Linked DNA regions of Homo sapiens. The protein of the gene in region 1 interacts with the protein of each later gene in a biochemical or structural test. Each region holds a gene or a part of one and is shown in the gene's direction. Other genes may lie near its edges.

Evidence for each region.
Region 2: the proteins of SERTAD2 (region 1) and KAT2B form a complex in vitro, tested with the Homo sapiens proteins (one study listed by BioGRID).

The regions. Positions count from the first base shown.
Region 1 is NC_000002.12:64,646,362-64,651,819, reverse strand, and holds part of SERTAD2 (SERTA domain-containing protein 2), read left to right. Parts: intron 1-3,253; exon of another isoform or gene 3,254-5,395; intron 5,396-5,458. UniProt on the Homo sapiens protein: Acts at E2F-responsive promoters as coregulator to integrate signals provided by PHD- and/or bromodomain-containing transcription factors.
Region 2 is NC_000003.12:20,120,029-20,124,873, forward strand, and holds part of KAT2B (histone acetyltransferase KAT2B), read left to right. Parts: intron 1-2,639; coding exon 2,640-2,776; intron 2,777-4,845. UniProt on the Homo sapiens protein: Functions as a histone acetyltransferase (HAT) to promote transcriptional activation. Has significant histone acetyltransferase activity with core histones (H3 and H4), and also with nucleosome core particles.

The DNA.
Region 1 (5,458 bases):
TGTATGTGTGACAGGAGGTGTCCTAGGGAACGGTTTTATTGTCAGGCGAATGTCACAGCGTCTTAGGTAACAGCTGCTCAAGCTTGTTTCCCTTGAAGAACTAAGAGAAGGATATTAATTCAGATTTAGAAAATCTTTACACTTCTGTTTGCTGAATTGTCCCTCTTTAAAGCTTTTCTATTTAATTGAGAAGCTAAAATATGAATTTTGCCCAGTTGCTACACACTGAATTATTACTGATAATGAGCCTAGTAAAATAGCACATATTTTGATATTTTAAAACTCATTCAAATTTGTGTGGCGACTGATAGCTTATGGTATCTGCTATTTTAAACAGGGTTCCAATGGCAGAGTAAGTTACAACACTACTTTAGAAAGGCACACACATGCATCACACACAAAAAACATTACAAAACGTATGAAGGCAGTTTGAAGATGTTCGAATGCAAATACATAAAAATTTCTATCAACTTGCAGCATGCTACTTTTATTATCAGTGTCCAATTATACTACAAGTTTACCCTCAGACAAAATATTTTACATTTTAGTAACTAAGAAAGGTGAAAGCTGGAACAGAAACTTTGAGAGGTTTCTTTTGCTGTGGTTTCTTGTTAAAAAGCACAGAAAAAAAAGTATGAAGCTTTATTTTATATTTCACATATATCAACAGAATCAAGACCACTTTGTCAATATTACCTGTGGAAAAAGCTATATATAGATAGGCGTATTTGGGGCCATGAACTTTAATTCACTCATAGAATTTTTAAAGCTTCTTGGCAACAGAAATTTTGTATTCACTGTCATGGCATATCCTATAGGAGATAGCTCTAGTTGCAATAGTTACTTGGTGCGTGAGAGAGAGAGCAAGCGCAGGCGCCGTCTCTGATTACTGAGTCCAAAGATCAGTTGTGTACTGAAGGCACCAGAAGGCAAGCTCCAGTTGACATGAAAATGGCCTCACAATAAGGGTGACACCAGCTCTCATAGGTCTTTCTGTTAATTAATACTGACTAGCAAAACATGAAAATCTAAAAGTGCCATGGCCACTTTATATGCACAACTCATATATTTTGTACATATTGTTAATAATTACTCATTAAGCAATTGGTAGAAAGCCACAAGCCAGGACTCCTGTTTAAGAAATGTGTGGCTATTTCATTTAGTTTTAGTATGTTTGAAGGAAATGGCTACTAATCTAGAAAAAATGATTGTCTCAAATGGCCAGTGCAGTTGATATTAAAGGCAAACTTATGCCCTGTGTGCAGATGCTGGGAAACCCTTATGAACAGAACTGTCCCCTGGAGCGTCCGTCACTCATTGTGTGGAGCAGTGTCTTTCTCCATTAGCACTGTGTGGCAGTTCATTCTTTGTATGAATCTGTGAATGGCATATGTCAGCCCAATAAGACGACATTCCTATTCTGAGTAATAAATAGACTCCTTGTTTTGTTTTTTTTTTCTCGGAGATCACGAGACAAACAAAACATGATTGGCTGTCTAAAAATTTTCTTTGAAATACAAATGAAAATTTTAAAGTAAAATATCACAATATATTTTATAATATATGATTTCTAATAGGACAGAACAGATACTGCCAGTTTGAACAAGCACCACATATAGACAGCGCAAACTCTCTTTTGAAAATTCTGCCCTCTTTGTGGTCTGAGGGATCCCAAAGCTGGAAAGACCCATTTGTCTTTTCTCAGAATCCTCTGTCCCTCATCTGAACTTAATGCTAGGATTCTCTGAAGTAAACCCCACAATTTGATTGATCTATTTTGGAAACCCAAGATCACCTAAGCTGTATTCCGCACCCATTGCAGTTTTCAGCTCAGAATGGAGTTGGCATCTGTGCTCCTGGCCGGCCTATTCTTACACTTGCACACTGTCTGGCCAGAGCTGGCCCTGCCTCCCCACAGGGACAGCAGATCAAGGGGTGAGTGTGCCCGGCCCACCTCCACCCTGAGTAGAGAGTGGACTGAGCTATGCGGAGGCGTGGGGTGGGGGCTGGAGGGAGAAGAGCAGAGGACAGATCTGGAGCTGACTGTGCAACTGCTATAGCAGGTCTGACTAGTTTGAGGTGCCCAAAGGCAGCTTTGTTTCTCTAGTAACTCCAGGTAGCAGCAAACTTCAGTTCTTAAAACTCATTCATGTCTGCCTTACTATCTTTTTTGTCACTTTACAAAAACCTGTAGCTTTGCAGAGTTACTAATTAATTCTAAGCTTTTTTCCTTTAAAAACCTTCCTAGGCAGTTAACTGAAAAGAAGCTAAGCATTCTCTAAGGACTTTCCCATAGAATAGTAAAGGGGAAGGGATTCTGGTTCTTACAGACATGATCTATGTCTATATATTCTGTATATCCATATGCACACTCACTGATGTTTAACAGTGGGCTGAGTGAACCTGTTGAAGAAAAGTAAAATGTACACTTGAATAGACCATGGTCAAAAACACTAAATGATCAAAAGTCTCTTGCTCCAGATCAGCCTTTAGCGCTTTGCTTGCCTCTGCTCCGGCCGGCTGCTTATCATTCCACGCCATGCACTGCAGCTCCTGGGGTTTGGAGCAGGCCTGCTGGTGTACCCCACCCTTGTGTTTAGAAGTATTGCCCAAGTTAAACTCAGAGAATCTGAAAGTCCCAAGGTCATCTCTACACCAGAACAGGTTTGCATAAAATCCTAGTCACGCTAATGAGATATCGAGCTGGCAGCTGCTTTAAACTGATCTTCCCTGTGTGGTTATCCCATTTTATAATAGGTGATACAGATTTGCTTTTCAGATTTCTTTCCTTCTTTGAGGGGACATCTCCCTGCCCATCTGTACCTCTCCTGTGTCTTCCGTGCTATCAGAGAAAACCAATCTGCCTGAGGAATTTGGGTGCTATGATCCAGAGTGGAAGAATTTTTGCTCTGCCTCTCTGCTTGTCAGGAACTTGGTGGTCTTTTCTGAACTTTTTAAGGCAAACTAATTTTTTTAAATAGTTTTACCATGTCCAGAAATATAAAATAAAATACGTTTCACTGGCAGTGATTCTTAGCTCTCTGACAAGTAGTTGGTTTACACATTAAAAATTCAATTCTTCAGGTGGTTCCTGCCTCCTTCTAAAGCTCCAGAAGACAGGTAGAATGAATAGAGTGGCAGGCTGGGGGTGGCAGGCTGGGGAGGTTGAGGAAGGCTTTCCATGAAGACCATTGAAGGTAATTGAAGAATTATGAAGTATTTTCCTTAGAAAATAAATAGTTATTACATTTAGTGTGGTACTCTGATTATTTTTATTGTATTTAAGTGACATAGCTTAAAGTTCAATGAGCCATTCATTATCAATGCACAGAAGTCCTTGGGAAGACAAACATTTTATCTCAAAATAGTCCCAAAGTAGTTATTCTTTAATGGCTGCCATATTTACAAAGTATCATTTACTCCCCTCAAGTTTAGTTGTATCCTCATTGCCTTTTTCTTTCTACAATTATTGTCTGTGTGTGAATTATTCAGGTATATGATACAAAGTTTAAATTGTCTTTGTAAAACCTTATTAGCCTACCTAATTCTTAGAGGCAACCAAATTAAACATTCGGAACATGTAGGTTACTTACATGGGACAGGTATTACATAAAATAGTTATTTCCTTCCATTTGCATGTCTCAAGTATATTTCTATTATCCTGCACCTCAAATTTTTGTACTCATGTCATGTTGTAGAAATGTGATATTGTTCTCTAGGGAATCCAAGTTTAGGCCGTACAATACAATGTTCAGTTTTACACAGTAAGTAAAAGAAACAACATTTCTCAGGTTTTCCTCTTTGGACTGCACGGATAAGTTATAAGATGAAATATGTTCTGTATTTGTAAGGAATATTTTAAGTGATTCTTTGATAGTAATGAAGCATCCAGATTTGAAGGCATGACTAGTTTTTAATTTTTAACTTTTAAGAAAAGCTTCCATTGAAGCATTTCTTGAAGTAGCATACTTTACTTTTATTCCTTAGTTTTATTCAGTGGCAAATAGTTGTCTAATAAAACCTAGAAGGCCACCTTTGGTTTTAACTAAGATGTAATTTTATCTTTCACAGAATTGTTCTAAAACCTTATATTTCCCTGTTTTAGTAAGACTTACATATATCTTGAGTCTTTTTTTTTTTTTTTAAACACAAAAACTGTCACATACTTTTGGCAAAGCCTTTCCTTTCTACTCTAAGTTCCCCACCTCCTTGACATTGTTTATTAAGGGTCTCTAGTGTGAGGGAGAAAAACAGTGTATCTTTAGGGAAAAGATGCTACAGGAGGATTGAAACAGAATCCCATCCAAGCAATTATAAATACAGGAGAAAAAATATTTTCATTATGCCCGAGAATGGGAGGTTGGGCAATGCTGGCTAGTCTTTACTAGTAAAGCACGTAATCTTATGGGAAAAATTGTCAAATCTGAGAGTTCCTTACCCTAATGTTAATGAGGCCTTAGACTCAAAATGCTAAAAACATACTCTGACACCAAATTATTATGAAGTAGTATCACAATTCAAATGATTATAAAATATAGATATGTTTATAGTTTCCAATTTTCAAATGTGGAGACTCATTATAACATTTCATCTATTATGAGCATTATTATTGAACATACAACATCATATAACCTGAACTTATAATTTAAATAGAAAGAATCCCAGCAAGTAGTTACACATAATGATCTCGCTTCATCATCTCCCTAAGGTTAACTGTGTTACATTTTATAATTAAATGGCCCCTCTCCAATGTCCTTTATGAAGGGTTTTCCCAAATAACTGCCTGAAGCAGTATCTGTTCAGTATGGAGATAATTTATAGTTATTAAGAAGTAGTAAGTAGGCCCAGTAAAGGCGTCTATCTATACTGGTAAAAGCTTAGTGCCGAATTTATTGAGACTCATTGTTTTATTGGGAGTCCATGTTGCAAGCCCCACTGGAAATTCTGAACTGTTGGTTTCTCCACGTTCACATCTCATGACTTGGGTGTGTGTTTGTTGTTGTGTGTTTGTTCTCATTTCAGGAATCCTCCAGGGATTTTAACCATGGTTTTTGAAATACCAGTATTAACTTTTATATACAGAGAAACAACCTTTCCTATACACAGTACTTCCAGAGTTTGAACCGTACCATAATTTAATTTATTTTGGCCTTGGCAAAGCTCCCAGCTTGCTTAGCAGTGTCCTGTGGATACCTGAATTTGGAAACAATCTTGAAAATGTGTATACTTTGAGAGAGCTGTAGGTAGAAATTGCAGTGAAGAATGAGACTTTTGCGCTCCTTGCTGCTCGGCTGCGCCCCCTCGTGGCTGGATGTGATGTGCTGTCTTCCAGAATTTAAAGAGTTCCAACTTGAATTGGGCGTGCTTGTTTACATGGAGCACTAATAGCTTTCTTCTGTGTGAAGAAAAAAAAAAAACCCTATCAAATTAATATAATAGTTTTCACTGGGGGTGTGAG
Region 2 (4,845 bases), on another chromosome or scaffold:
TTGGGCTTGGCTTGGCTAGAGCACTTAAGCTGAAGCAACTCTGCTTCACATATTTCTCATAATTTTCCTGGGACTATTGGGCTACCCGGAACATGTCCTTCTTGTGATGAGAGAGGGCAGGAAGAAATACACAGTCTCTTGAAGCCTAGGCTTGGAACTTGTAAACCATCACTTCTGCCACATTCTTTTTTTTTTTCCTTTTCTTTTCTTTTTATTTGAGACAGAGTCTCACACTGTCACCCTGGCTGGAGTGCAGTGGTGTGATCTCAGCTCACTGCAACCTCTGCCTCCTGGGTTTAAGTGACTCTCCTGCCTCAGTCTCCTGAGTAGCTGGGATTACAGGTGCCCACCATCATGCCCTGCTAATTTTTGTATTTTTGGTGGAGATGGGTTTTTGCCATATTGGTCAGGCTGGTCTCAAACTCCTGACCTCAGGTAATCTACCTGTCTCGGCCTCCCAAAGTGCTGGGATTATAGGTGTGAGCCACCATACCCTGCTGACTTCTGCCTCATTCTGTCGTCCAAAGCAAGTCACGTAGTTGAACTCAGAGTTGAGAGGTGGAGAAGTGGAAAAAGGTAGTCTATTCCTTTCGTAGGAATAACTGCAAAGTCACATAGCAAAGAGTGTAGATACCAGGAGGGTAAAGAATTTGGCCATTAATGTAATCTACCACATGGGCAAAAATATCTCTTGAGCCTAGAAGCATTTCACAGTTAGAGAATGTTTTGAAGGTTGCATTTCTGTCCACAGACTTGACGTCAGACAAATCTTGGATGTGACCAAATTTTTAAATAAAAGAAGTACCATGAAAGAGGGAAAGAAGAGGACCTTATAATATAAGAAGTGCCATATATTTAGCATATGCCACCATTCCCTTTCACTTCCAAGGGAGATATCACTAATTCATGCAGAAACTCTTTACCAGTGAGCTTGGATTCAGCCTCAGACTTTTTAAAAAAAATCATAAACACCATTAGCAGTCTAACAAGCAGAGGGCATATCAAGTACAAACCCCAGCTACGAAATAAATAGTTTTCAGCATTACTCTTAGGGAATCATGGAATTTGAGGACTTATTGGTCAGATGTCTGAAAATATTGTTACTTGTCTCCAAAAACAAACAACAAAAAATTGTAAAAAAAAGAACTCGACAAAAGTGATTTAGTAAATAATATGTAATACTTCTGGAAGAATCGTCTACAGTCAAGTTACTTTATACTGTTCTGCTCCTTTTCAACTAGAGATAGTGAGAATGCTATGTGGAGAATGTTATATTGAGATAGCAGTGGGATTCACATGTGAGGAAATAAATTAGATCTAGACATCTTAAAAATTCAAAAAATTTACTTGTAAAAATAAATACATGTTATGTCTGGAAAAAACTGGAAAAACCAAACATGAGAATAGAAAGGAGAAAAAAACTACCATGCAATCTCATGAGGAAAGCGGAAGAAAGTTCTCTCTGCCTTTGCATGGCTCTCCTATTGTGTGGAATGGTGAGATTGCATCTACTTGATAGGCTAGTGGTCCTGCTCACTTTGTGAGGCATCATTTTAGGGCAAAAAAGCATTGTAAAAGATAAAGTGTGTCATTTTATAATAGAAAATTAAATCCATAAATTTGTTTATTAAAAATAATTTATGGTATATTTCAAATATATAGCTATATATACATAATATATATGCATACATACACATATGCATATGTGTGTGTGTGTGTGTGTGTGTGTGTGTGTGTGTGTGTGTGTGTGTGTGTATAGCCAAGCCCAGCACAGAGATTCCAATCAGTGGGTAGACTCATGAACAAGCCTGCCAAGATTGAATGAGATGAGCTGAAATCAGCCACCCATCAGGAAACATACGAAATGAATGAGCTATGATAGTAAGTTATTATGGTTTAAGACTCATTTGGGGTTGGTTTATTACATAGCAATAACTAACCAATAAAGCCCAAAGCCTAATGCAAACTGATTTCCGTACATATATGGTGGGGTGCCGGTGGGGGCGGGGTGGAATTAACATGACTACAAGGAGAAATAATCAAATCAACCAACGGTTGAGGCTTTAAACAAACAACTGAGTAATTCATAGGTCAAACAGACAAAAATATCAGTAAGGCTCTTACTGATATCCATACAACATGATCTGTAAGCTGAAGCTAATGGAGTTATAGAGATCAAAATATGAAAATACACATTCTTTCCAAGAAGACACTGCACATTTACAAAAGATTGGTCTTATTTTAGGTCATAAGGTAAAAATTTCAATCCATTTTGACGTTTTGGTGTCATATGGACCATGTTCTCTGACCTTGAAGAGACTATATTAGAGAGTACTAACAAACAATAGCTAGAATCACCCCTTTGCATTTGCAGATGAAGGAACATGTGCCTTAATATTTCATGTATCTAGTTAAAAATCATCATAGAAAGTAGAAAATATTCACAATGAATTGGGTTGGCAGTTATTGTGAGCTCACAATGGCTCTCTTTCCTGTCTTCCTTTGTCACCCCTTCCCCTGGTGGTAAAGATAGAGTTGACCTCCATGCCCATCAATGCTGTTAGAAAATTAGTTGGCGTGTATTATTTGTTTTGTGTTTAGAACCACCCATTGTTTGCCTTTTATTTTGATCATCATAGGAGAAAAGAGGAAAATGACTGATTCTCATGTTCTGGAGGAGGCCAAGAAACCCCGAGTTATGGGGGATATTCCGATGGAATTAATCAACGAGGTTATGTCTACCATCACGGACCCTGCAGCAATGCTTGGACCAGAGGTCAGCAGGGTAAACCTGGGCAGCCAGCTGGTAGACCTCTTCTGCTCTCCTGGCCACTCCAGCTGTCAGAAGTGGGGATGCTAATGCTGAGAGTTAACATGTTATGCTACCCTGGTTTGCATTTAACCTGGTGGTCAGTGTGGAGAGGGCAGGAACAACTGATCAAGAGGTAATTCCCCTTGATGAATATCACATCACAGGTCCACTTACTAATAATCTCACAGTTGAAGGCATCATTCCCAGCTTTTTATCTTGAAAAATTTCAAGCCCTCATAAATGTTGCAGAAATTCTGTAATAAAAATCCATAGACTCTTTACTGAGATTCAGCAGTTAACATTATGCCACATTTGCTACCTCTCTTTCTCTCTGCGCCTCCCCATATGCTCTTTTTCTTTCTCTCCCCACTCCCCATGAACCATTTGGAACCATTTCAGAATTAAAAACACATGTCATAATACTTCACCCCTAACTATTTTTGCATGTACTGTATCTCATAAGGAAGCTATTCTCTTACATAACCACAATGCAGTCATTACTCTTAGAAAATTTAGCCTGGTTACAATATTTTCTAATACAGGGTTGGTGAATTACAGCCTGCAAGCCAAATCTGCTCCACTGGCTGTTTTTTTCAAATAAAGTTTTATTGAAACATATTGTTTGCAGCTGTCTTTGCATTACAACAGTAAATTTGAATAATTGAGACAGGGAATGTGTGGCTTGCAAAGTATGAAATATTTATTATCTGGCTTTTCACTGAAAAGTTTGCTGACCTCTGGCCTAATATAAAACCGTATTTAAATTTCCCATATAGCCAGATGATGTCAGTTATAACCTTTGTTGTTGTTGAAGGATCAGTTAGGGATTGTGCATTGCATTTAATTCTTATCTCTTCATTTGTTTAGTCTCCTTTAAAACAACTCCCCAGCCTTGTTTTGGTCTTTTGCAGCACTGCCATTGGTGAAGAGTCTTGGTCGCTAGTTTTGTATAAGGTCCCTCTTTTTGGATTTGTTGATTGTTTACTAAGGATTAGATTCAAGTAAGGCATTTTTGGTAAAAATGCTGCTGTCATCTCATTGCCTTGCATCTGAGGGCATGCAAGGCAATGACATTTCTTAAGACATACCTGTCTTAAGACATTTCTGACAGCTTCCAGGAAATGAAGAAATGGCTTGGAGATTATATTACAGTGTTAATTTTCAATTTGTCATGTTTCTTTAAATATTTATTTTATGACATTGAGGATACTTCAGAGAACCAGAATGTTGTAATAGAAAAATCTCTTCCTAAAATTGATCTTTCCATTTCCTCCTAGATGTCCAGTCTGTGAGGGCTTAAGACTATAGTTTTTTAGGGATTTAGTAACATTACAGATTAGCTGAGTTTAGGTTTTTTTCAGCTATAAAATGGGGATTTGTACTAGTCTATTGCATTGCTACAAAGAAATACCTGAGACTGGGTAATTTATTTTTTTAAAAAAGAGCTTTAATTGGCTCACAGTTCCACAGACTGTACAAGAATGGCATCAGCATCTGCTCAGCTTCTGGGGAGGCCTCAGGGAACTTATACTCATGGTGCAGGGTGAAGTGGGAGCAGGCACATCACATGGTGAGAGAGGGAACAAGAGAGTGAGGAGGAGGAGCCAGACCCCTTTAAACCACCAAATCTCATATGAACTAACTGAGCAATAACTCATTCATCAACAAGGGGATGGTGCTAGGCCATTCATGAGGGGTCTGCCCTGATGATCCAACACTTCCCACTAGGCCCCACCTCCAACATTGGAGATTGCATTTCAGCATGAGATTTGGAGGGGTCACACATTCAAACTACATCAGGATGCAGTCACATGTTTGAAAATATTTTGGATATATTAATATTTAGTAGTGTACTAGAGCTGGCTTGTACTGGAATGCACAAGAAAATTGTTAAATTTTCAGGAGTTTTGTGAGCTGGTTGTTCCATATGTTGGTAGCTTGAAGTTGACTAGCATGGCACCTGGTTACCTGGATAGCCAGTTCTGGACTAATGAGATGAAGTGTCACCAGTTAGGGCCTTCCTTCCTTGAAGA